Homo sapiens: one gene and its partners. The protein of the gene in region 5 purifies or fractionates together with the protein of the main gene of each other region. This does not show direct contact. Each region holds a gene or a part of one and is shown on either strand. Other genes may lie near its edges. The genes, in order: HK1, PYGM, SLC18A2, PCDHGB4, RDH11, CIB2 and TACR1.

Region 1 (3,500 bases), on a different chromosome or scaffold from region 5:
TCCTTGGCTCAAACCCTATCCCCTCAGCAACACAAAACTATTTCTCTCTCTTTCTTTTTTTGAGACAGGAGCTCATTCTGTCCCCCAGGCTGGAGTGTAGAGGCACATCAGGTCACTGCAACCTCTGCACCCCCATGCTCAAGTGATCCTCCCACCTCAGCCTCCCAAGTAACTGGGATTATAGGCACACCACCACACCCAGCTGTGTATGATTTTTTGTAGAGCCACATTGCCCAGGCTGGTCTCGAACTCCTGGGCTCAAGCAATCCACCTGCCTCAGCCTCCCAAAGTGCTGGGATTACAAGTGTGAGCTGCCATGCCAGGCCAGAACTATTTCAATTGAAGTCGACATTCTTTGAGCCATCAACAGAACTGGGTGTGAAGGTGCAGTACTGACATGGGTGCTTCACATGCACATTGTATTTATATGTACAGTGGGAAACAACTCTGAGGTCCTGTGCAAAACAATCATGTCACAGGCTAGCATTAAAACTTATTAAATAATGACTTAGAATTTCCCTTTAGCCTTTTAAAAAAAGTATAAGCCACGTTCTCACAGGACAACATGGCTTCTAAAACTAAGGTGAGATGGCATGAGGACTGGCTGGGGCCACTGACAGACCAGAAGGCTGTGTGGGGAACAAAGCACCTCCTTGCCAATGGGGACAACTTACAGCTCCTGCAGCTCCAGCTCTCAGAGGCCAAGCACAGACAAGCTGCCCATTTAAAAAAGTAAAGTCTGAGGGTTTGGGGGGTTTTAACAGGAGCTTCTGAAACAAGAATGTGGGTACCACACCTATGACCCAAGGTCCTCCTGATGAAATGCGGACGAGAGACAGACACATTCCACCCAGAGGAGCCGACAGCTACAGAAATCTCCATCTCGACTTTTGACAGGGCGAGGTAACGACAGAGTGCAGAAGCAATACCAGCAAGAATCGACTAAGGGCGATACTTCCCAAGGGGGCGACGCTGACCTTATGCCCAGAACTAAGCATGTTATTTATCTATTTATTTATTTTCAATTTTTCGTAAAGATGAGGTCTTACTATGTTGCCCAGGCTGTTCTCAAACTCCTTCCTCCTGCCTCGGCCTCTCAAAGTGCTAAGATTACAGGCATGAGCCACAGCCCCCGACCACCATTGTCTTGTCTGCCGAAAAACGTTTACCGGGTACAAAAGTCTGATCTCTGGAGAAGGTCCCTACCCACAATGGGTACAGAGTGCCAATGATAGCAAAGGGCAGACTCACTGTGGGTGCGTCTTGTAAAGAGATCCGTCGACACCAACCGTGGTCCGCAGCCTGGGTGTGCCCTTGTTATCACGCAGGCGGTTCAAGATGGCGCCCAGTGTGGCAGCCACCAAGTTGGCTGAGCGAAATGAGACAATGGTGCAAACGTGCTGGACTGAGACACAGTCATCATCGGACGGCTCCACTCCCAGGCGGGTCAGGATTTCTTTGGCATTGTGGAGGCCTTCCTTATTCCTGTGAAGTTAGAAGCCAATACTGATGCACTGAGGACCACATGAGGCAGTGCAAAGCACTGAGGCTCAAAGGTGCTGGAAAGGGACAGCCCCACTTACCATGTGTGGGATGGTATGGGATGGTATGGGATGAAGACTGTCAAATGCCTGAGAAGAGCCCAGGAAGGGTTCTCCTCCATAAGAAATGCCAGGTAGTGATAGGAAAAACTGTACCAGGTTGCACTATGCCAAGCCAGGACCATGAAGAGAAGTGGAGAGGCAAGACTATGTGGCCTCTGAACAGGTGGCGAAATGGCTGCCACCACCCAGGGCTCATGAGGCTCAGGAGAACCTCCCACTCGTGGGGTCTGTGAGTTGCCCCTGGATGCTTATACATCCTTCCTTGATGTCTCTCAGTGAAATTGTAATTTTCTGTACACGTGTTTTGTGTATCTTTTGTTGGATTCATTCTGAAGTACTTTATAGTTTTGTTATTGCTGCAAATGGTGCCTTTAAAATATATATGTATACATACAGGCATACATATACACTCACACATACACACAAACACATATACATACACTCTATCTTTGCAGCTTTCCTGTAAATCTAAAATTATTCTTAAAAATGTGTTTTAAAATATGTACATATTTTTATTATTGCTGATAGAAATACAGTTGACTTCTGTATCTTATCTCCAGACATCTTTTTTTGACAGATTTTTTTTAATATTTAAAAACAAAACCAACCTCGCCCCAAATAACCCCCAAACAAAAAACCAGATTAAATAAAATGTACAGTGAATATACCCAGCAAACATCTGTATGTGCAATCAAATACTGTGTCTGTTACTGCGGCACGAACCTCAAACAAACAATATACAAGTGTTCTGGGAGGGTCGGGGGAGTCCCAAGTTTTAACTCTGTGGGGTCTAGGAAGACAAGATGGGGAAGTGAGAGAATGGGGAAATCAATTTTGTTTATCTTAATTCTGTCCATATAAATATATTCATAAAGACCAAAAAAGGAAAGGAAGCTTGGGATGTTAAGGTAATACGAGAATAGGAGAGTGTGGGACTTTCCCAATTCTACCTGACCAAAAAATATGAGAGAAATTAATTTTATGATGGGAGAAGAGATTTTAAAAATGATAGAAGAGGATGGGGGCTGGGCACAGTGGCTCACACCTGTAATCCCAGCACTTTGGGAGGCCAAAGTGGGAGGGTCACCTGAGGTCAGGAGTTTGAGACCAGCCTGGCCAACAAGGTGAAACCCCATCCAGACATCTTTTTAACCTCTCCCGTCATTCTATTCATTTGTCTGTAGATATTTTGGGGGTATTCCATATAGACTTTTACCATTTGCAAATAATGACAGTTTCACTTCTTTTTTGATTCTCATACCTTTAATTTATCTCTCGTCTTTTCTTTAAAAACAAAAACAAAAACGAAAACCCACTGGCTAAGACTCCAGTACGATGCCAAATAGAAACTGGTGATACTGTCTCGCTCCTGATTTTAGAGAATGCCTCTAACATCTGCTCTTGTAGGATGTTTTTATAGTTTTTTTTTTTTTGAGATAGCCTTTATTATAATATACATGCTTTCTTGAGCTAGCTGGGTTTGTGTTTCTTGGTAACCAAAGAGTCAATACCAGAAACAGGCCAAGAGGAAGGCATGCATTTCCTGACTTGGCCAGTGATTTTCAAGACAATCCACGAGTCTCCCGCTCCCCTTCCTTCCCAGCCACTGACCAGGAGACTCATGAAAAGGGACAGCTGGAAACTCAGGAGAGTGATCATACAACAAACTCCAGCACATGGATTTGGCAGAAGAGTTGGTCCAGATAAACCCCTTTCCTCTTCCAGCAGCTGCCTTCTCTAACCTCAAAGAGAGCTGATGCAAATCTTCACAAGGAGACAGAGAATCCCGGGTTTCTTGTGTGATGCCAAGGGGCTACAGTTAGTTGCTGGCTGGCTCTGTCCTTCCTTCTAACTGTCCTGTCTCATCTGTTAACCGGTGTTTCTCAAACTTGCACG
Region 2 (4,077 bases), on a different chromosome or scaffold from region 5:
TAAAAATACAAAAAATTAGCCGGGCGTGTTGGCAGGCGCCTGTAGTCCCAGCTGATCGGGAGGCTGAGGCAGGAGAATGGTGTGAATCCAGGAGGCGGAGCTTGCAGTGAGCCGAGATCGCGCCACTGCGCTCCAGCCTGGGTAACAGAGTGAGACTCTGCCTCAAAAAAAAAAAAAAAAATCCTTGCTCCCTGAAAGCCATGGGCAAAAGGGAAATATGGGCACAGTAGTTACAAGGGGCCTATGGTCAGAAACAGTTCTTCAGAGAAGACATTATCCTGGCATTACATTAAAAAATTTTATTTTATTTTATTTTAATGTATTTTTTTTTTTGAGACGGAGTCTCGCTCTGTCACCCAGGCTGGAGTGCAGTGGCGCGATCTTGGCTCACTGCAAGCTCCGCCTCCTGGGTTCACACCATTCTCCTGCCTCTACCTCCCGAGTAGCTGGGACTACAGGCACCTGCTGCCACGCCTGGCTAATTTTTTGCATTTTTAGTAGAGACGGGGTTTCACCATGTTAGCCAGGATGGTCTCGATCTGCTGACCTCGTGATCTGCCTGCCTCGGCCTCCCAAAGTGCTGGGATTACAGGCGTGAGCCACTGCGCCCGGCCTTTTGTTTTGTTTTGAGATGGAGTCTTGCTCTGTCACCCAGGCCGCAGTGCAATGGCACGATCTTGGCTCACCGCAACCTCCACCGCCCGGGTACAAGCGATTCTCCTGCCTCAGCCTCCTGAGTAGCTGGGATTACAGATACCCACCACCACGCCCAGCTAATTTTTGTATTTTTAGTAGAGACGGGGTTTCATCATTTTGGCCAGGATGGTCTCTATCTCCTGACCTCAGGTGATCCACCCTCCTCGGCCTCCCAAGTGCTGGGCTTACAGGGGTGAGCCACTGCGCCTGGCCTATTTATTTTTATGTTTTTGAGACAGAGTCACTCTGTCACCTAGGCTGGAGTGCAATGGCATGATTTTGGCTCACTGCAACCTCCGCCTCCCAGGTTCAAGTGATTCTCTCACCTCAGCCTCCCGAGTAGCTGGGATTACAGGCACCCACCATCACGCCCAGGTAATTTTTGTATTTTTGTAGAGATGGGGTTTCATCATGTTGGCCAGGCTGGTCTTGAACTCCTGACCTCAAGTAATCCACCCGCCTCGGCCTCCCAAAGTGCTGGGTTTACAGGCGTGAGCCACCGCGCCCTGCTTGAATCCTGATATCTTAGCATTGGAGAGAGATTTTCCATGTTATTAGTCTTCAAAAATATTTTAAATGTTTGTATAACATTCCATCCTATGAGCATGTCACAACTTATTTAATCAATTCCATGTGGCTGGACACTAAGGTTAATTTCCGGTTTGTTAAATATTACTGTGATGAGCAACCTTTTAATGTCTACGTCCACATCTGATGATTTCCTTAAGATAATTATCAGAAGGGTGATATTTCTGAGTTAAAAAGTATGAGTTCTTAAGGCTCTTGATACAGATTGCCAAACTGCTTTCCAGAAAGTTTCTCCCAGTTTACACTCCCACAACAGCTTCCCAGAGTTGGCATTAAACACTGAAAGAAGTGTCTCCTGTGAGGCTTCACTAGAAAGCTGGCTGTCCCATGGGCAGGAGGGAGCTGTGAGATGTTGTGAGCATGGTCCCGCATGCTCAGAACGAGGCCTGGAAGAACCCTCTGGCTGCAGGATGGAGACAGTGCTGGAGGGGGCAGGTGGGGGACCACTGTGGGGGCTGACACCATAATGCAGGGAGAGTTGCCTGAGAGTCGCACAAGGGACTAGAGAGTCGCACGAGGGATTAGAGATTTTGTGGGGAGCGCTGGTTTCTGGTTGGAACGGTTAGGTTTTGAGACTGGCCTGTGGAGCGCTTTGAGCCGTGGTGGGGGCGCTGAGGGTCAGCTGAAGGGTTATCTTTTTTTTTTTTTTTGAGATGGAGTCTTGCTCTGTTGCCCAGGCTGGAGTGCAATGGCATGATCTCGGTTCACTGCAACCTCCGCCTCCCGGGTTCAAGTGATTCTTCCACCTCAGCCTCCCGAGGAGCTGGGATTACAGGCACACGACACCATGCCCGGCTACTTTTTGTATTTTTGTAGAGACTGGGTTTCACCATGTTGGCCAGGTTGGTCTTGAACTCCTGACCTCCTCAGATGATCCGCCCACCTCGGCCTCCCAAAGTGCTGGGATTACAGGCGTGAGCCACCATGCCTGGCCCAGTTGAAGGGTTGTACCTGTTAGCTGCTCTTGCTGCCCCAGGGCAAGGCCGGATATGGACTTGGGCTACTGGAGGAGAAAAGCCATTTTGGAGCAAACAAACTGGTTAAGAGACAGCAGTGGCGTGTGGGAGAAAAGAGCTTGTTTGGGGGCCTTGGCTCTAACACTTAGCTTTCTGTATCCTCCGGGCCTCAGTTTCTTCATTCACAAAGGAGGGATGAAAAGCTGAGCAGAGAAGGGGAGTTGCAGGGAGGCCCTGCAGGGGCGATGTGGCAGCCCTGGGGAGCAGCAGGCTGGACCTGGGTTTTGACCCTGGGGCATGGGACTTCTCAGCTTTTCTCTGGAAGAGGAGCCAGGAACCCCTTTCCGGGGAGCTGACCACAGCTCTGTCCTGGCAGGTACAATGCCCAGGAGTACTACGATCGCATTCCTGAGCTTCGGCAGGTCATTGAGCAGCTGAGCAGTGGCTTCTTCTCCCCCAAACAGCCCGACCTGTTCAAGGACATTGTCAATATGCTCATGCACCATGACCGGTGAGCTGGTTGGCCCGGGAATCACTCAGGTGGGGCCGCAGGGCAGATCGAGGCTCAGGTGTGTGGTGGGGAAGCCGGACGCGGGTCCTGGTAGTTGGAGCCAGGCGCCTTTGGAAGCAGCATGACCCTCTAGGTCCCCGGCTGTCCACTGGGACAGGGCAGGCTTGGCCCTTGACCTCATAGAACTTATCCTAGCCCCCTAAAGGAATAGCACATGCCTATCCTTTCCCCTCCAGGTTTAAAGTCTTCGCAGATTATGAAGACTACATTAAATGCCAGGAGAAAGTCAGCGCCTTGTACAAGGTGAGGGGTCCTGGGCCAGGGGTTGGCAGGGCTTTGGTGGCCCTGGTTGGGATGAGGCAGAAGGTGGAGATCCTGCCAGCAGAGTGAACCAGAGCTTCCCTTTGACCTGCAGAACCCAAGAGAGTGGACGCGGATGGTGATCCGGAACATAGCCACCTCTGGCAAGTTCTCCAGTGACCGCACCATTGCCCAGTATGCCCGGGAGATCTGGGGTGTGGAGCCTTCCCGCCAGCGCCTGCCAGCCCCGGATGAGGCCATCTGAGCCTCCAGACCAGACCCCAAACCAGCCCTTGAGTCTGTCACACTCTCTTGGGCCAGCCCCAGCACCTCATGCAGAGGGTGGGGTACTGGAGTTAGATCTCTAAGCCCCTCCTGGAACCCTCATTTTCCCCACTCTCAATGTCCCAGTGTCCAGCGTGACTAAGGACACGGGCCCCCTTCCGTCCTCGGGCTCCCGGTCCCCTCCTATTTATGGGGTCTGACCAACTGCACCCACTCCCTAATAAATTCATTCTCCTTGGGAGCCTCCTTACTCCTCTTTGTTGGGAAATATTTTTAGCTCTTGGCGGGCTCAACAGCAGCCGCGCAGTCACCCCCTTATCCTCCACCCTCGGCAGGTGCGTCCCACGGCGGGACGGTGATGGGAGGTGGAGGGGGCGACCCGTGGGGGCGGGGCCTAGGCCTCTCCAGCCCCTTTCCTGGCGTCACCCTCCACGCCTCTCTTCCCAGTGCCGTGTCCATACTAGGTCAGCGGCCAGCCTCGCTGGCCGGGGGCGGGGCGTCTGCCTGGGTGGGGCCCACCGGGGCTGGGAGCCGGGACTTGGGCTGAGGCTTCCCGGACCACGGAGGATCCGCGCTGTCGAGGGCAGGACCCAGGAGGGGGAGGAAGCAGAGGATGCTCGGCGCCTTCTTGGCTCCGCCCTTAGCCCCGCCCTACTGCGGCGTTTAAGGGTCTCTTAGCAGGTGGCTACACTGGATCCAAAGTCGGGGGAGTGTTACGGCAGGGAACACTCGCAGACCGCC
Region 3 (3,500 bases), on a different chromosome or scaffold from region 5:
TATTTTTTTCCTTTCCTGCTTTCATGGAGACTTTGAAAAATGGTAGGAAGAGCCCTGAGCTGGGGGTGGAGGGGATCAGGACTTCCCCTGCCTCTGCCCCAAACCTCCCTGGGCCCAGATGGAAAACCAAAGGTTGAACAGGATGGTCTGCCAGACCCTTTCCTCGGGAACATTCAGTGAGTTGTGATCACGGAGAACCTTGCTTTCTGGGTCTGCCTCCCCCAGCTGCCCTGGCTGACTTCCCAGACCAGGGGACAAACATCTTCCCTGAGAGGGATTCAAAACCTTTTCCTTCCTCTTCCGATTTCCCGCCTGCTTCCAGGAGCCTGCAGCCTTGCCTGCGCTGGTGTACAAGGAGCGAAGTCTCTGTTTACACATTTTCCTGTGCAGTGGAAGCAGCCCAGCCCTGGGCCTGGATCTTGTTTCTCTCGGGCCTTTGCTTTCAGGGTGACCTTTATAGACTCCTGCCCATTTCTTAGGAAAAGGCACTTGGAGGAAGTTGCCAAGACAACTGAACTCTAACCGAACAGAACAATAGGGCAGCCACCCCAAAGCCTTATTGGAACAAAGTAGAGAGAGAAACACAAGAGTCAAATAGATGGTTCTAGTACAGGGAGAGGGCATGTGTCCCAGGGGTGGTGTCCCCACTTTCTCTCCCTGCAGTGGGCCCCCCCTTCGGGAGTGTGCTCTATGAGTTTGTGGGGAAGACGGCTCCGTTCCTGGTGCTGGCCGCCCTGGTACTCTTGGATGGAGGTGAGTGAGTCCACGTGGGCGCCATGCCATGACCTTGGCATCGTGCTGGCACGCGCTTGGGCCACACCTGCTTTCTGAAGAGGGGCTTGTCTTTTTTATTTTTATTTTTTAGCTATTCAGCTCTTTGTGCTCCAGCCGTCCCGGGTGCAGCCAGAGGTAAGCGGCTGGGAATGAGGGCCCTGGGGGAGGGGGCATGGTGCTGCTTCTGACCCGTGTTTTTTTCTTGACAGAGTCAGAAGGGGACACCCCTAACCACGCTGCTGAAGGACCCGTACATCCTCATTGCTGCAGGTGGGGCTCTGTGGGTCTTCTGAGTCAGGGGAATGCGAGGTGATGGCCGCGTGCTGGAGGCAGGGGTGGATGGCCAGGGCTGATTTTCGTTTTGCTGCTAGAAATGTTGGGCTATATAAAAAAACAGAAAAGGCAAAGAGGCTACAAGTCAAAGGAAATGGTTTTCTTCCGCCATTGCTTTCTGACACTCAGCCAAGGCCCTTTTTGTCTCATTTGGGGAAAATCAAAATGGCGTATGCTGGGCTCTGCAGAGCTGCCTGGGTCCTGGGGATGCCCGGCTGGGTTTGTTTGGAGCTAAGCTTGCCCACTGTGTTTGTATGGAAGGCCATCATTGTTTGGCCTTGAACTTTCCGGAAGGAGTCCTTGGCCTCAAGGCAAGGGTCCCCGGTGGGCAGTCTGACTCACCTTGGCATATATGAATAGAAACTGACAGCAGAGCCCCACAGGGACCAGAGGGGCTCCCTTCTTGCAGAGAGCATCCCTGCCGAGCAGCAGGGAGGCCGTTCAAACACCCTTTGGCTAAAGGACATGCTTTGGCCTAGAGGGGCTAAAAGAAAGCACTGGGGTTTTGTGACTCTTGGGAAGGATAATGGTCTGCATCTATCCAAGGGACTGTTCCCCAAGACTGTCCCAGTGGTAGGAGGCTGCCTGCTTTGCCAGGCCCCGGGCTGCCTAACCAGGGACCAGCCTTGTGTAGGTGTTGCTGGGCCTCAGTACCAAGGTAAGCAGACCCTTGGGGTCAGGCCAGGAGAAGGTCTGGCTGCGCGCTGATGTGTTGGTCTCTGGGGCAGCCTGCACTGTAGCACTAGACCCAGTTAGGGTTAGACTTGTCTAAGCACGGCTCCCTAACACAGGTAGGCTGGAGGGCGCCTGGGAGAACTGGGCACCAGTAGTTAAGTTCAGCCTTTGTCAACCCTCAGGCTGGTTTTGTTTAACCCTTCTGCTGCTGGATTTGATTAGGGCAGCAGGTATGTAACCCTGGCCAAGACCCTGTCTATCATGCTTGCTGGCCAAAGGGATATGGAGGTGGCATGGTGACTTATTCATGCAGTGACGTCTGCAAGATGCAGGGGGCATCCCAGAGCTCAGATGCTTCTGGAACCCTGGCATCTGAGGTGGGGACGAGGAGGTATGGTGAGGGACGGGGGCTCCAGAAATGTGACTTCCTGAACCTCGGGCACGTCTGAGCAGGGCTGTGCAGCCTGGGCCTGTCCTGTCTTGGGCTTCCCTGGAACCTCACTGCCTAGTACCTGCTCACAGGAGACACAAAGATGCTACCCAGCACTCCTGGACTGTCATCGACACTTCCAGACAGCCCGACTGGGGAAGGGAGTTGAGAGCCAAGTGGCTGTCCACTTGAGGGGAGTCCTGCCATTGATATGCTCTGCCTTTAAGTGTCATGTCGAATGAACAGACCTTTCTTCACCATATGTGCACCTTCATCACGATTGCACAATATTCTTTGAATTTGTTGTAGCAAATTAGAGGTTCCAAGAGGCACAACACGGGAAGTTCCCAGAACGATGGAGAACAGTTCCGTGGGTCTTTTTCCAGATAGTTCTATATTTACAAAGGGTTCTGGTTAAGAGATCATGAATATTTGCATAGGTGCCCTTATGTACCGCTGAACCCCGCCCCCTCCACCTAACGGCATGCCTGTACTGAATGCACCTGATCCTGCTTGGATTTTCTGGCATTTCTAGGTATCATTAGAAATGCCCACGTATATTGCACAGTAAAACACAGATGCGAGAGCCTCAGGCTGCCCCGAGACTGTGTGTGGTCTGGAAGTGGCCTGATTGCTGGGTGGCCCCAAGCAAGCTACTGCATTAATAAACTGGGCTTCCTTTCTTCATTGATAAAACCATAATTGGGTAGGTTAAACCAAAGGAACTCTAGGGCTGCCTCCAGTCCAAACTTTGTCTCTGGGATTCTAGTTGTTTAAAATGAGGACGACGACGACCATGATGATGATGATTATGATAAACAGCCTTTGCTGTCCCCTTGATATGCGATTTATCCTTTACTTAATGAAAGTAGAAGTTGCGGTTATCTGAGCTGTAGGCGCATGGAGTCTAACTGTGCCTGGAAATGAGAGAGGAGGCAGAAGCCACTACAAAGCCCTTTCCTCCCTTACAGGCTCCATCTGCTTTGCAAACATGGGCATCGCCATGCTGGAGCCAGCCCTGCCCATCTGGATGATGGAGACCATGTGTTCCCGAAAGTGGCAGCTGGGTAAGGACTGGGGTGGGCTCTTCTGATTCAAGAGCATTTGTCCCCAGGGCAGCCTTTGTCCCCAGGGCATCCCTGCTGAGTTGCCCTTATGGGGATGATAAAGTGATTGCTTCTGTTTGACTCTTAATGGGGTCATTGCTTAGGGCAGCCTTGGGGTCTGTTTGTTCTCTGGTTTATCCATCATCCCTGAGGGGTGCAGAACTCACACAGACACATCAGAT
Region 4 (3,500 bases), on a different chromosome or scaffold from region 5:
GGATATACGCTGAGTAGGAGGCATGAGGGAAAGTAGGAGGGTTGTCGTTAATGTCTGCCACGTGCAGAGCGATTTGAGTTTCAGTGGACAGAGGTGGTGTTCCTAGATCTGAGGCCATCACTGTGATATTGTAGATAGAGACATTTTCTCGGTCCAAATATTTCCTTGTCACTAATCTATAATAATTACCTATTGACTTTTCTAATTTAAAAGGTAAATTATCACGTGTGTAACAGACAACTTGACCATTCTTTCCAGAGTCTTGGTCATGCACACTCAAGAAGGCAATTACTGTCCCGGGAAGAGAATTTTCTAACACTGGGCTAAACAAAGACGTAATGATCACTTCTGGTCTATTGTCATTTACATCTTCCACCGAAATGAGCAATTTGGTCCTCCCCAGAAGTGCCCCCACATCTTCGGCTTGTATTTCCATTTCATAAAATGAACATTCTTCATAATCTAGACTTTTTGCTATTGATATTTCCCCAGTATTTTCATTAAGCTGGAATAACGGAGTTTGTTTTTCATTAATTTTCCGGAATTTGTATGCCACTTTTCCGTTGATTCCCTCATCCGGGTCGCTGGCTGTTACAGTAAGCAGCCGCGTGCCTGGGGGCATGTTCTCAAGGACTTTCACTCGGTAAATCGGGTGAGGAAAAACCGGGGCATTGTCATTTGTATCCAACACTGTCACGTGGATGCGCACTGTGCTAGAGCGAGGCGGCTTGCCGCCATCCGAGGCCGTGAGGACCAGGTGGTGAGCAGCCTCTTCCTCCCTGTCCAGGGCGCGCTCCAGCACCAGCTCTGGGTTTATGGCTCCATTGTCTCCAGTCTGCACGTCCAGGGAGAAGTGGTGATTGGGGCTGAGCTGGTAGCTCTGGAGGGAGTTCACGCCCACATCCGGGTCAACAGCTTCTGGGAGTGGATAACGTGCTCCAGGAACCGCGATTTCGTTAATTTTTACTTCTAGATCTTCGACCTGGAATTTTGGGTTATTATCGTTAATATCAATTATTTCTATTTCTACCCCAAAGAGTTTTCCTTTATCCTCAACCAGGGTGTTAATATTTATCAGACACCGCGGGCTCTGAGCGCAGAGCTCCTCCCGATCTATCCTGCCCGCGGTGATCAAGCTGCCGCTGCGCGGGTTCAGAGCAAAGAGCTGCGTCCTACCTCTGGAGACGATACGGACTCCGTGCTTCGCCAGCTTCCGGGGGTCCAGCCCCAGGTCCTTGGAGATATTACCCACGAAGGAGCCTTTGTCCGTCTCTTCTGGCACAGAGTAGCGAATCTGTCCCCTCCCGATTTCCCACAGCGTTCCCAGCAGCGCGCACAGCAGGATCAGCTCGCCGCGTCTGGGGCGACTCTGTGGAGCGGCCATTGTTGTTTTGCTGCAGAATCCTCTCAGAATCTTCACTGTGCATAAATGGGTCTTATTTAGTTTCTTGCCGCAGCTATGGAGATGACAATCCTCCGGAAACCTGGAGTGCCTCCAAACAGGGGTCGGGTTTCGCTGCAGTCCAGCAGTTAGTTTGTGGCATCTGCGGGTCTTCGTGAGGTGTGAGATCTGAGTGTTTTCGGTTGCATTTGTCTTCCAGTAGGTGAACAGCGGCGCTTACAGTCCTAAATAGTTACTGCACTGAGATACAGATTACTTCTAAATGTAATACTCTACTAGATTACTGAGAAAAAAAAATCATTTGCTTATTACTTTGTTTTGAATTTATTTGATTTATCCGTAAACCCATATTTTAAAAGAAACAGCCAAAGAATGTGAGATGAAGGTTTTATTTAGTGTTATTAAATGATCAGATTAGATCAGAATGATCAGATTGTAGCATCGGATTAAATTACTCACATTTCTGCAATACATTTGGTCTTAAAAAAAACATGATACTTTCATTTCCCATTGTGCTCTAAGCTTTATTGTAAATGTCTCCAATATATACTAACAAATAACTAAGAACTTCAGTTGTCACCAGAAATGAATTTATCTTGAGACTAAAATAGACCTACTGGAGATGACTGACTCAGAAATTGTTTTATTTGGTTTAAACTACTTAATCATTTTACAAGCTTTCTATAGAGTTGTTGCTTTTAAATTATTCTTCTAAATGCCACTTGAATTACATGTCGATAATATTTTCAAATAAAAATTGTGGAATTTCAATAGGATAAATGCTTTTACCATTGCAGTTTTATGAGATATTACATTGTTTTGCTATTTTATTTACATTGTTTATATTTTTCTATTTGAATACTTGAAAGGTACAGATGAATATATGATAAAAAGCAAAGCTCCATCCCATCCCTTTCACCAAAGAGATGATTAAATTTAAAGCAGACTTGACTTTTACATATATTCTAAAATTAACTTTACCTACATTAACACTTTGATCTAAAAAACTGCAAAAAGTAATGACTATATAATACTTACTAAGAAGCCAAAGGATAAGTATGACTACAAAAAAGTCTGTTTCCCTTCAAGACCAGCCTGGGCAACGTAGCAGATGAACTTATTTCACCCTTCCTTTGAAGACTGGTATGATAGTTTTTTCACTGACTAAAACTTTCTTAAAACCACTCATGAAATCTGAAAACTTTATATTTTCCTGTGAATATATTTTCTTATGCATATGGAAAACTGGGTAGACAATGGAAACCATACCAGTTAAATTAGTGAAAGAAAATATTTTCTCTACTGAAAACAGAAAAATTAGCCAGGTCTGGTGGCATGAGCCTGAGTTCCAGCTAGTCAGGAGGCTGATGCAGAAGGAATGCTTGAGCCCAGGAGTTTGAGGCTGGAGGGAGCTATCATTGTGCCACTGCACTACAGCCTGAGTAACAGACAGAGACTCTGTCTCAAAAAAAAAAAAAGAAAAAAAAAAGAATCGAAAGACGTTTCCTTCTTTCAGCAATTTGTAAAGTGGCCATTAACTGAAGCAGTTGCTTAGATATACCTAGCAAAAGGCTCATATAATGTTCCTTGGTATTTTGTATATATTTTGTATGCACACCAGATTGGCAGTTTTCAAGACTATATTTCTTTCCTAGAGGTAGGAGAATGATTAGAAGACCTCTAGCTATATTAGTTTAGGGCTGCAGATAAGGCAGTTACACATTATATATTAGGGCTGTGTGTGAGAGGGACAACAGACACAAAACATTGTCTTTTCTTTGATGAAGGATATAGAATGAGCTTGAATACAGATTAATCCTGAAACTCCTATGTTACAAGTAAGGAGAATCTGCTTTTGATCTTCTAATGAGCATAGTAGACCTTTTTCTAAGTAAAAGGATCTCTCTCACACACACACACACACACACGCACACACAGCGTACACTGCATATAATCACAAGGGGTCCATGGACATAAAAATCCAGTTGACTCCTTATTCTAAGAGCTTTTGAAACAAAAGGGAAGTTAACACAGGAAACAAAACAGTGGACTACTATGGAGACCATACCAGTTAAATTAGTTAAGAAAAGTGTTGAAT
Region 5 (3,500 bases):
TCCAACTATAGGGCACCTGTGCCTGATTCCTTGAGCCTGCATTCTGCCTGCCTCAATTCCTAGCACAGTTCACCCTCGATTTCCCTTCTCTTTATTAGAAATCCAGAGTAGACAGTGCTAAGGACCTCTGTGTATTTGTGACTGGAAATTCCCCTTCTCAAGCATATATTTCCCTCTTATTTGATGCTTTGCAAGGGAGACCCTGCCCCTCCATATTCCCAGTACCTGTTTTAGTCTACTGCCTTTATCTAGTGCCAGTTCAGGTCCTTCCCTCATACTCAGTCTCACTGTGAGTAAAAAATCTTGACTTGCTTATGAAGCCTGAATTAATTATGACAATAAACTGTGAAGTAGTCCCATTTACATATGAAGAAGGAAGTCCTAAAAGTTAAGTAATGGCCAGGTGCGGTGGCTCACACCTAAAATCCCAGCACTCTGGGAGGCCAAGGTGGGTGGATCACCTGAGGTCACGAGTTCAAGACCACCCTGACCAACATGGTGAAATCCTGTCTCTACTAAAAATACAAAAATTAGCCAGGCCTGGTGGCACGCACCTGTAGTCCCAGCTACTCAGGAGGCTGAGGCAGGAGAATCACTTGAACCTGGGAAGTGGAGGTCGGCAGTGAGCCGAGATTGCACCATTGCACTCCAGCATGGGTGACAGAGCAAGATCCCGTCTCAAAAAAAAAAAAAGTTAAGTAACTTGCTATAGATCACACAGCTAGTAAGTAGTAAAGCCAGGCCTTCAGACTCAAAGTCAGAGTCTCACTGTCCCAGCCAGCCACCTCCAATATTCAGTTGTAGACTACTTACTAAAACTGTACCCAATTATAGCCACGGAAGCAGGTCCTCTCCAGGTGATGGGCTCTGGAAACAGTTTCCATTCCTGTGGCTTTTACCTGCCTCTCTCTGACTCATGTCTCCACATTCATTTCCTCTAGGCCCACCTTTTAGTCTCCGGGCCAGTTCCTGGGTGAAGAGGATGTTGGCTAGCTTGCTGTGACAGTAGGCCAGGCCTGCATTGTAGAATTTCTCGCCCTGCAGGTTATGGAAGTGGATCCTTCCCAGGTGATGTGCGAGGGAAGACACATTTACTATCCTTGATGGGGCTGATTCCTTTAGTTTCTCTAGCAGCAGATGGGTTAGGAGGAAGTGACCTGTTGAGAAATACTAGAATTAATGAAGTTCAGGGCCATGTAGGAATGACAGGAGTCGTGGTGAGCAGGCCTCACCTATGGGAGGCAGATAATTCAGAAATAAGGTCTTTCCCTCCAACTTTTCATTATCAACTAGAAAACAAGTTTAATGAAGGTTTAGGGAAATAACAACAGCCAAAGACATGAGGCATCCTTATATGAGCGAGATAGGTCTAGACTATGTGAATATGAAGTCCCAGCTCATTCCTACTTTGGTTAATCTCATTCTTAAGAGCTGGTTGGCTGGGTGCGGTGGCTCACGCCGGTAATCTCAGCACTTAAAGAGGCTGAGGCAGGAAGGTGCCTGAGGCCAGGAGTTTAAGTACAGCCTGGGCAACATAGCAAGACCCTGTCTTTACAAAAAAAGAGCAGATGACCTATACCTGATGCTGGCCACAAGGATCACTACTAAGAAAGCAACACAGTCCCCTAAACCAATTAGTCTGTTAAAAAATGCGCCAAGGCAAACCAAATCTAAATCACAGATTAAAAAGCGGGCAGAACCTGGAGCAGCCCTCAGGTATTCCTCAGCTATCAGGTAGGACCAAACTATTATGCACACATGGTCTATTATGGTCCTGAGGTTCAATCACACAACAAGAAGCCTCAATCTGACCCCTAAGTTTCCCAAAGAGAATTTTGGGTCTCTCTAGCTTTGTGATAAGGCCAGATTTCTTACCCAAGTGGTTGACTCCTATGTGCATCTCAAAGCCATCTGCTGTCTTCGAGTACGGACACATCATCACTCCTGCATTGTTGATCAAAACGTGGAGGTGCTTTTCCTCTGCAGGGACAAGACGATGGAGCGTGGAAGTGGCTAGCCAAGGCTATTACATCTTAGAAAGCTGCCTCACGCTCAGGCTTTGAAAATGAGGATGCAGGACTTCAATCTTCCCTCCATTTTTCCTTCATATTTATTTTCTATTGTTTTTCATTTTAAGACTTTAGTTGAATCCCACCTACTTTTACTATGGGGCAGAATTCCATTTTATACTACCAAATGACCTTCCAGATCCTTGTAGTTCAGGAGCTACTTACTCACTGCTTTTGGGAATTGTTGCATCCACCTCTCTCAATAAAAAGACTTCCCAAGCTGAATGGAAAGATTCCAAAGCAAGAGAAAAAAGAATGTTCTCTATGTACCTCTGCCCTGGGATTCAGGTCCCCAAAGAAATAAATACTGGCTTCACCTCTTTATTGCATCTTCCAATTCTCTCTCATGGTTCATTTCCTCATGTGGTTTGTAATTTATGACTATGAGTTCACACCAGTGAAAGCTTTTTCCTTGGAGGCCTAGATCCCTGGGCTATAAGGGGATATGCCTATAGAGTGCTCTTGGATTTGCTTTTGATGAGACACTACAGGTTTTTACGTTAATTTTCCATAGAGTATTACACACACATACAAAAATCAAACCCATAAATATCCTCATATCATTTGGTGGTACGAATTCAGACCCCACACATGATGCCAGCTCGGGTTCTAATTTTTTGCAGGTAAGTATCCATCTATGTCTAAAGAGATGGTAAACTTCTTTGTCATGTCTCTGAGCTGGTGGCCAGGATTTTTATTAGCTTCTATACTATGGACCAGATGGCCCTTTGTGAATCTCAACTTTGTGTAGAACCTCAAATACAGCTCCAGCTCTCAAAGGCCTGTGGCCTCATCTCCTATCCCTGTGTAAGTATTTAGACCCCAGACCCTAAAAAGCCTGTACTGAGTGCTGAGACTCCCATGAGATTTCTGGCTTCAGCTCTTACTCACTGCTATGACGTTTTGAATTCATTTTTTGTTTCTGCCTCTGGAAGATATCCCTTTGACATAAATTGTGTCCCAGTGACTATGAGTTCAGCTACAGAAGTTTTTGGCTATATTTTATCCACCACTTCTATGAGGAAGAGGGACCTTTTCCTTTTAGTTGAATCTGCCATGTTGACCTCAAGACCCACAACATAGTCTCTCTAGTTCTACACTTACCAGCTAAGAAGCCCTTAGCAAAAGCTCGAATAGACTTAGTATCAGACAGGTCCAGTTTCCGCACCAACACCTGCTGGTTCCCTGTCGTGGTCTGGATCTCTTTGGCCACCAATTCCCCCTTTTCCACATCCCGGCAAGCTAAATATACTCGAGCTCCTGTCAGCCAACATATGAAAGAGAAATGGTCAGCTCTGTTTTTGAGCTGGCATTATAAATCTAATGTTATTTCCAACATTTTTTTAAAAAACACACATTTTTACCCTTTCTTCACAACAGAGGTATCTGATTAGCAAATAGGTAAAGAAAAATAAATTAATAATATTCATT
Region 6 (3,340 bases), on a different chromosome or scaffold from region 5:
TGTGTGTCACTTCCCTTCCTATCCACATGTCCCCTTCTCTATAAGGGTGGACAGCTGGCTTGCTACCCCACTCCCAACAACCCCCAGGCCTGGGATGCAGAAAACAGGACTGATCATCTCCAGAGAGAACACCATACGTGCCCCTCCTCCCTGCCCTGACCCTGGGCAGAGCGGGCTCAGGTTGCATTTGTGGGAAATCTACTCTTAGTGACCACTTGGCTATGCAGCTTTTCCTGAAATATAGGCCTGTAAGAGTCCCTCCCTCCTTGGGGGTTTAAGGATTGAGACTGAAGCAACTGTCCCTGTGCCTGAGTGGTTAGCACTCCCAAATGTTAACCAGAGATACTGTCAGGGAATTCACGGAAGGTTCGGGGCATGAATGTGTTTTCCTCCCGATGGCACACGCACTGAAATCAAAGTTAGTGCCTAAAGCAGGAGGCACTGCCTAATGCCGAGAGGTGAGACACCAATGGTGGGATTTCAAGGATCAGAAGCAAAGGTACCCTCAAACATTTCCTAACATTAGCATACATGGAGAGCAAAGGGATGCAAAAGTGTTTTACTACCAGGAGTTCACAAATCTGTGGACAGCACACCAGTGAGGATTCCACGGTGTTGGGGAGGCAGGCAGGGTGGTACTCATGACCCAGAGGCAGAGACAGGAGCAAGAGCCCTTGGGCCCACTGCACCCACAGCTTCACATTGTGAAGGAGGCCGGGAGAAGGGGAACAGGCAGGGGTGGGAAGCAGCCCAACCTTGGGTTTTGGAAAAAGATTGCATAGCTCGTTAAAACCCTGACCTCTTTTTTTTTTTTCCGCTCTGTCCTGGGTGACCAGGGTGTCTGCCAGCACTTGGACACGTCAGACCCCACCACCTCCTGTTGGGTTATCTGCTTTTCCCTCTTTGGGGGGGTGGGGAGCATTTCTGGAGTAGGAAAGGACTGGGGCATGGGGCGGGGTGCGGAGGGCCTGGAGAGAGGCCATGGGTCCCGGGGCTGGACCACAGCGGGGCTGTGGGAAGGGTCCTAACCTTCACAGGCCCCCTTCCTGGTTAAGGTTTTTTTTTTGCTGAAAGGGCCACAGGATATATTTGTGGTGTAAACCCCAGAGGCTGCCACTGCTTTCCTGGGGAGCTTGGAGGCCACACCCATGTGACTGCAGGGCAGGATGGTGGACTTCTAGGCCCCTACAGCCTCGGCAGTGTCCTCAGATCCGGATGTGGAAAGTGCTAGAAAGAGAGAAAGGGCAAGAGAGGGTGAGAGGCCCTGGGTCGGGCAGGTAAAGGCTCCTCAGGGAAAAGCACAGCAGGCCCCAGCCCCATGCTGGACAGTGCCTCATTAGGGAACCCTGCATAGTGGATGCAGGTAATCAACACTGGGGGAAGACGGAGGAACAGCGGTGCCCAGGGAGTTCTGCCCCCACTTATCACTGAAGGGGCCCCCAGGTCTTCAACCTTCCCCCTGCAGGGGACAAAGGCCAGTCACACGTCTAGGGCAAGGGTGGCTTGAACGTGACCTCCTGCTTCCTGGCCGCACACCACTGCTCACAAATAGCGAGTGATAGGGGCCTCAGCCCCAACATCCCGGCCTGCCCTGCTCTGCCCTGCCCAAGCCCGGCCCCTGTAGTGGCAGCACCTGAGGAAGTCAGGGGCCTTGGCAATCATGTCCTCGAAGTCAGCAAAGCCCAGCTTGCCGTCACCGTCCAAGTCAGCCTCCTCAATGACCTTGTCGCACACAAGCACCACCTCCTCCTCATCCAGCTCTGACTTAGTGAGCCGGGCCAGCGTCAGCTCCAGGTCCTCCTTGCAGATGAAGTTGTCAGTGTTGAAGTCTGTAGGGCAGGGGTTGGACATGTTCAAGTCCAGGCTGCGTGCACCCAGGGACCCCTACACTATAGCTCTTCCTCCTAGCTGGCCCCACTACCTCCACCAGCTTCTGATGTCCCCAGAGCATCTCCATGCACACTCTTGGGATACTGGATCCCTGCCCCCAAGAGGGCTTACCCACCAGGCATCGCTTAAACACCCACATCCACCACCAACAACAACCCCACAATGACTAAACCACATCCTGAAGCAGGTCAAAAGTCCAAATCTGAGGTTTCCTGAGAACTTCAGGCTTAGGCCAGATAGCCCTTCCTGGCCTTAGCCCACAGTGGACCCAGTGTTCCCTTTAGACTTCTAGAGCTAAGGAAACTAAGGCCCAAAAAGGCCATGCGATTGAATCAAGGTGGGAGAGCCACTCGGAGATGGAGCAGGGATTCTGACTAGGGCCTATGGGACTCTAAGACCCATGTTTTCTAAACTGCACCCCGTTGCCTCAGTGGTGTGTGACCAGAAGACACGGTGGGTCAGGAGACTCAAAATCAAAAGACCCTTAGAGAGGGGCCTGTGCCTGGCCTTTGTGCACACAGAGCAGGGAACATGGTTTGATTCTACCCAGCAAAAGGCACTACCACTGCCCCAAAGCACAGCAAAATGGTTCAGAGGACCGAGCCATGCCTGGCCACATCAAAGTGAACTCTCTCTTCTTACATTTTGAGCCCAACTACCAGATCTGCGCATGTGCTGTTTCTTCTGCCTGGGGTCCCTTCCCAGCAAACTCCTGGTCATCCTTCAAATTTTGGCTCACACATCACCTCCCAGTGGCGGGGCTTTCTAGCGATAAGGGTCCTCTTCCCCGCAAATGAGCTTCTGTTGCCCATTGGCAAACTCTGACATTAATGGTAGTGACAAAGACCCATCATGTGAGCATTATATGCTCTTTCTCATTTAATTTTCAAAACAAAACTATGAGGCAGGCACAATTGAATCTCCACTATACACATGAAGAAACAGAGAGGTGGCCAGGCGCGGTGGTTCACGCCTGTAATCCCAGCACTTTGCGAGTCCGAGGTGGGTGGATCACGAGGCCAGGAGATTGAGACCATCCTGGCTAACACGGTGAAACCCCGTCTCTACTAAAAATACAAAAAAAAAAAAATTAGCCGGGCGTGGTGGTGGACGCCTGTAGTCCCAGCTACTCAGGAGGCTGAAGCAGGAGAATGGCGTGAACCCAGGAGGCGGAGCTTGCAGTGAGCTGAGATCGCACCACTGCACTCCAGCCTCGTTGACAGAGCGAGACTCTATCTCAAAAATAAAAAAAGAAACAGGGAGGTGAAAAGGAGAGGTACCTGCCTGAGGTCACATCCCGGTCATTGTTGGACCCTAGAGCCCAAGCTCTTGGGGTGACTCTGCCCTGTCTATCTCTGCAGAGGCCTGGGCACAACTCTAGGGTATGCGTCAGGGAGTATTCATCTCTGCCCATGGCATGGGACATAGCAAATCTCTGGAAAGATTTGCT
Region 7 (3,500 bases), on a different chromosome or scaffold from region 5:
CAACACATGTGGGCCTGTTCAACCATTATCGTTGCCGTCTTTCCAATTCAGTGAAGGGCTGGACCCAGATGGTCATGGCCAGAACCTCTTTGAGTGTTTGTATTAAAACCATAGGATTGCTTGTTGGATTATTTCCCAAATGCAGCGGTGAAGATGCCTTATCTCACCTCCAGCACTGCATAGTTCCTACCCTCACTGGCAGCTGTGCATTCTCAGGCTTCACAGGAACTTGAGGAGGATGCTCAGGGGAGAATGTGGTAATTACATTGCCCTCTTTTAATATTACCTCAAATGCAAGATTTTAATTTGTTTCTCATTCAGGATAAATGCTCAGTCTTAAATAAACAAATCCTAACACCACTCCCCATGCTCGAATTGGCGATACACCATTCAGAATCTAATGTGACTGGGCTTACGGGGGATTGCACCAGCGTATTGGCACTGTAACTCCAAATGGGTGGCAGAAAGCCATATTTTATCCTTATTGCAAAAATTGCAATTTGGGAACGCACTTCAGTTAACTCTCTACCGTTCTTTAGTGTAGGAGCCATTTTAGTGGCAGATGAAAGTATTACCCACATAAAGCCAGAGAGAATAAAAAAGACTGGCTTTAAAAAATGTATATATGTTCATTTGTTCAAAACAGAGGTGTTTATAAATCTCCCTCCCTCCTTCCTTCCCTCCTTTCCTCTCTTTCCTCCTTTCTTCTATCCCTCTCTTGCAATCCTCATTTCTGGGGCTCGTTTAACATGTTTTTTTCTTATTCACCCAAAAGCTAGTACCATTTGGATAACCTGTACACAGATGGATGAATATTTTCTTTCCTACTCCCCACTTCTAGCTAGGATTCATTAACATACATTTATATATTTATCTGGAACCAGCCTGAGCAATTCTTGCTTATTTGGTTATAAGATATTACGGAGCAAGTGCTGCAAACCCAAGGAAAATACATTCAATAAATATTTATTGACTGCACCGTGCTCGTGGGACTCTAAGGCAGTCAATGAAACGTCTTTCTGGTGTAAGCATTAATCATTAGGCTGCCAGCGACAGGGATCTGGAGGCGTGTGGGATATGGATTATGTTCTTTACTTCAGGTGGTTCCAGTCCCACTGAGGGCCATCAGGACTGATTTGAATTGTATGTGTCCTCCCAGCTGAAAAACCTGAGATGTAGCCTTCCTCTTGCATGATGATGCTTTATAAAAAGAACTCTCTGCTGCACATTTGTTTTTTCTTGTAGGCAGAGTGAAAACAATCTTATTGTGAAAAGGAATTTCAATCCTCTGACAAGCGGCAGTATCTTCATAACTTCCTGCTATACCAGTCCCAAATCACTCAGCAGAGAGAACGTCTTTCCTCTACGATGAGATTTGTCCAGTGGGGCCCTTCTTCCACAGTCTTTCTCATCCAATTCCAGTTTCTGCCCTCACTTCTCCCACTCACTCCTGGGGTGTTACAAGTTTCCTTTAAGGGACCACATCTTCCTGAGTTCAGATAACCAGGGTGGTAATAGCTGAGAGTGTGGCTGCTATAGTCTAGCTCAAGGGTTGGCAATTTTTTTCTGGGAAAGACAGATATTACATATTTTGAGTTTTGTGGTCCATATAGTTTCAGTTGTAATTATCAAACTCTATCTTTGTAGTGTGAAAACAGCCACAGACAGCAAAGAAACTATTGGGCATGGCTGTATGATAATAACATTTTATTTACAAAAACAGGAGGTAGGCTGCATTTGGTCCCTGGCCCATAGCTTGCTGTCCCCTGGTCTAGTTTACAGGAAGCGAAGAGCAGGAGGAATTAGAACCATAGGAGAAGATGGTGTGATATTCAGAAACACTCTTTACCTTTGGCAGATGGGAACTCATTGGGTAGATAACTCCTGTGTCCCACAAGCAGTGAGTAAGGTGGTCTACGGCCAGTCATGACCAAGAATCAGATAAGACCCTGGTTCTAATGTGAGCACAGTGGTCAATCTGGGATGTTTTTCCTCCTCGATCCCTTCCTGGCTGTTCCTGTTTATTTTCACAACTTGGCCCAGTCATCATGTCCTTGTGGCTGTGTTTGTTGCCTGCCTTTACTGCTGTGAAGATCTCTAAACCTTGTGCTGACCACGCTTCACTTTATTTTCTATTTTCTTTTCTTTTCTTTTTTTTCTATTCTTTCTTTTTTTTGTTTTGAGATGGAGTCTCGCTCTGTTGCCCAGACTGGAGTGCAGTGGTATGATCTCGGCTCACTGCAGCCTCTGCCTCCCGGGTTCCAGCAATTCTCATGCCTCAGTGTCCCAAGTAGCTGGGATTACAGGTGCCTGCCACCATGCCTAGCTAATTTTTTTGCATTTTTAGTAGAGAAGGGGTTTCACCATGTTTGCTAGGCTGGTCTTGAACTCCTAACTTAAGTGATTCACTGTCCTCGGCCTCCCAAAGTGCTGGGATTACAGGCATGAGCCACCGCGCCGGGCCTTTATTTTTCTAATTGCATATCCTTCTTTTCTCTTTTCACCCTCCACAGGTCCTTGGCCTGCCCAGGTGCTGAGGATGTAGTAAATACTCATTGAAAGTTTGGTTGCATAAATGATATCTTGGCACATAGCAGTGGCTTCATGAATGCTTGTTGAGTGAAAATAAGTGTAAAAGGAGAAAAACATACATGTTATACCTTTATTCCTCCCAGTCTCAACACATGTAAGACTGTTATGTGAGAATAATTATTGCTCAAAGTGTTTTCTGTCATATAGACACCCAGGATCATCCTGAAGGAGTGACCTCACTGGAATTGGCTCTTCAGAATTTTTTATCTCTTGACATTAAGCCCCTAAATAGAGCCTCAATACCTACTTGTTGACTAACTTTTGTGTTGACTATACGTTGGGAACTGTGCAGGATTCAGTCTTTCTTAGTTTTTTATAGCTTTGATTTTAGGTTCAGGGGTACATGTGCCAGGTTTGTTCTATAGATAAACTCATGTTACAGGGGTTTGTTGCACAGATTATTTCATGACCCATATTAAGCTAGTACCCAATAGTTATTTTTTCTGCTTCTCTTCCTCCTCTCACTCTCCACCCTGAAGTAGACCCCAGTGTCTGTTTCCTTCTTTGTGTTCATCAGTTCTCATCATTTAGTTCCCACTTATAAGTGGGAACATGTGGTATTTGATTTTCTGTTCCTGTGTTAGTTTGCTAAGGATAATAGCCTCCAACTCCATTCATGTTCCCGTAAAATACACGATTTCATTCTTTTTTATGGAAGAATTATATATATAGTATTCCATGGTGTATATGTACCACATTTAAAAATCCCATCTGTCATTGATGGGCATTTAGGCTGATTCCATGTCTTTGCTATTGTGAATAGTAGTACTGCAGTGAACATATGCATGCATGTATCCTTATAATAAAATGATTTATATTCCTCTGGGTATATACCCAGTAATGGGATTGCTGGGTCAAATGGTAGTTCTGATTTTAGCTCTTCAAGGAATAAAGACTTGAATGTGAAA

The links.
Region 1: the proteins of RDH11 (region 5) and HK1 purify together in Homo sapiens (co-immunoprecipitation; one large-scale study listed by IntAct). This does not show direct contact.
Region 2: the proteins of RDH11 (region 5) and PYGM purify together in Homo sapiens (affinity purification with mass spectrometry; one large-scale study listed by BioGRID and IntAct). This does not show direct contact.
Region 3: the proteins of RDH11 (region 5) and SLC18A2 purify together in Homo sapiens (co-immunoprecipitation; one large-scale study listed by IntAct). This does not show direct contact.
Region 4: the proteins of RDH11 (region 5) and PCDHGB4 purify together in Homo sapiens (co-immunoprecipitation; one large-scale study listed by IntAct). This does not show direct contact.
Region 6: the proteins of RDH11 (region 5) and CIB2 purify together in Homo sapiens (co-immunoprecipitation; one large-scale study listed by IntAct). This does not show direct contact.
Region 7: the proteins of RDH11 (region 5) and TACR1 purify together in Homo sapiens (co-immunoprecipitation; one large-scale study listed by IntAct). This does not show direct contact.

What each region holds. Positions count from the first base shown.
Region 1 is NC_000010.11:69,377,847-69,381,346, reverse strand, and holds part of HK1 (hexokinase-1), read right to left. Parts: intron 1,486-3,500; coding exon 1,252-1,485; intron 1-1,251. UniProt on the Homo sapiens protein: Catalyzes the phosphorylation of various hexoses, such as D-glucose, D-glucosamine, D-fructose, D-mannose and 2-deoxy-D-glucose, to hexose 6-phosphate (D-glucose 6-phosphate, D-glucosamine 6-phosphate, D-fructose 6-phosphate, D-mannose 6-phosphate and 2-deoxy-D-glucose 6-phosphate, respectively).
Region 2 is NC_000011.10:64,745,898-64,749,974, reverse strand, and holds the end of PYGM (glycogen phosphorylase, muscle form), read left to right. Parts: intron 1-2,616; coding exon 2,617-2,751; intron 2,752-2,987; coding exon 2,988-3,054; intron 3,055-3,166; coding exon 3,167-3,316; 3' UTR 3,317-3,577; downstream 3,578-4,077. UniProt on the Homo sapiens protein: Allosteric enzyme that catalyzes the rate-limiting step in glycogen catabolism, the phosphorolytic cleavage of glycogen to produce glucose-1-phosphate, and plays a central role in maintaining cellular and organismal glucose homeostasis.
Region 3 is NC_000010.11:117,254,614-117,258,113, forward strand, and holds part of SLC18A2 (synaptic vesicular amine transporter), read left to right. Parts: intron 1-663; coding exon 664-753; intron 754-865; coding exon 866-909; intron 910-983; coding exon 984-1,044; intron 1,045-3,183; coding exon 3,184-3,279; intron 3,280-3,500. UniProt on the Homo sapiens protein: Electrogenic antiporter that exchanges one cationic monoamine with two intravesicular protons across the membrane of secretory and synaptic vesicles.
Region 4 is NC_000005.10:141,390,698-141,394,197, reverse strand, and holds part of PCDHGB4 (protocadherin gamma-B4 isoform 1 precursor), read right to left. Parts: intron 1,566-3,500; exon of another isoform or gene 1,385-1,565; coding exon of another isoform or gene 1-1,384. Other genes in the region: PCDHGA8 (protocadherin gamma-A8 isoform 1 precursor), read right to left, coding at 1-1,384. UniProt on the Homo sapiens protein: Potential calcium-dependent cell-adhesion protein. May be involved in the establishment and maintenance of specific neuronal connections in the brain.
Region 5 is NC_000014.9:67,689,265-67,692,764, forward strand, and holds part of RDH11 (retinol dehydrogenase 11), read right to left. Parts: intron 3,330-3,500; coding exon 3,174-3,329; intron 1,981-3,173; coding exon 1,876-1,980; intron 1,158-1,875; coding exon 948-1,157; intron 1-947. UniProt on the Homo sapiens protein: Retinol dehydrogenase with a clear preference for NADP. Displays high activity towards 9-cis, 11-cis and all-trans-retinol, and to a lesser extent on 13-cis-retinol.
Region 6 is NC_000015.10:78,104,106-78,107,445, forward strand, and holds the end of CIB2 (calcium and integrin-binding family member 2), read right to left. Parts: intron 1,830-3,340; coding exon 1,634-1,829; coding exon of another isoform or gene 1,543-1,633; exon of another isoform or gene 1,234-1,542; intron 1,228-1,233; coding exon 1,206-1,227; 3' UTR 501-1,205; downstream 1-500. UniProt on the Homo sapiens protein: Calcium- and integrin-binding protein that plays a role in intracellular calcium homeostasis. Acts as an auxiliary subunit of the sensory mechanoelectrical transduction (MET) channel in hair cells.
Region 7 is NC_000002.12:75,123,021-75,126,520, forward strand, and holds part of TACR1 (substance-P receptor), read right to left. Parts: intron 1-3,500. UniProt on the Homo sapiens protein: This is a receptor for the tachykinin neuropeptide substance P. It is probably associated with G proteins that activate a phosphatidylinositol-calcium second messenger system.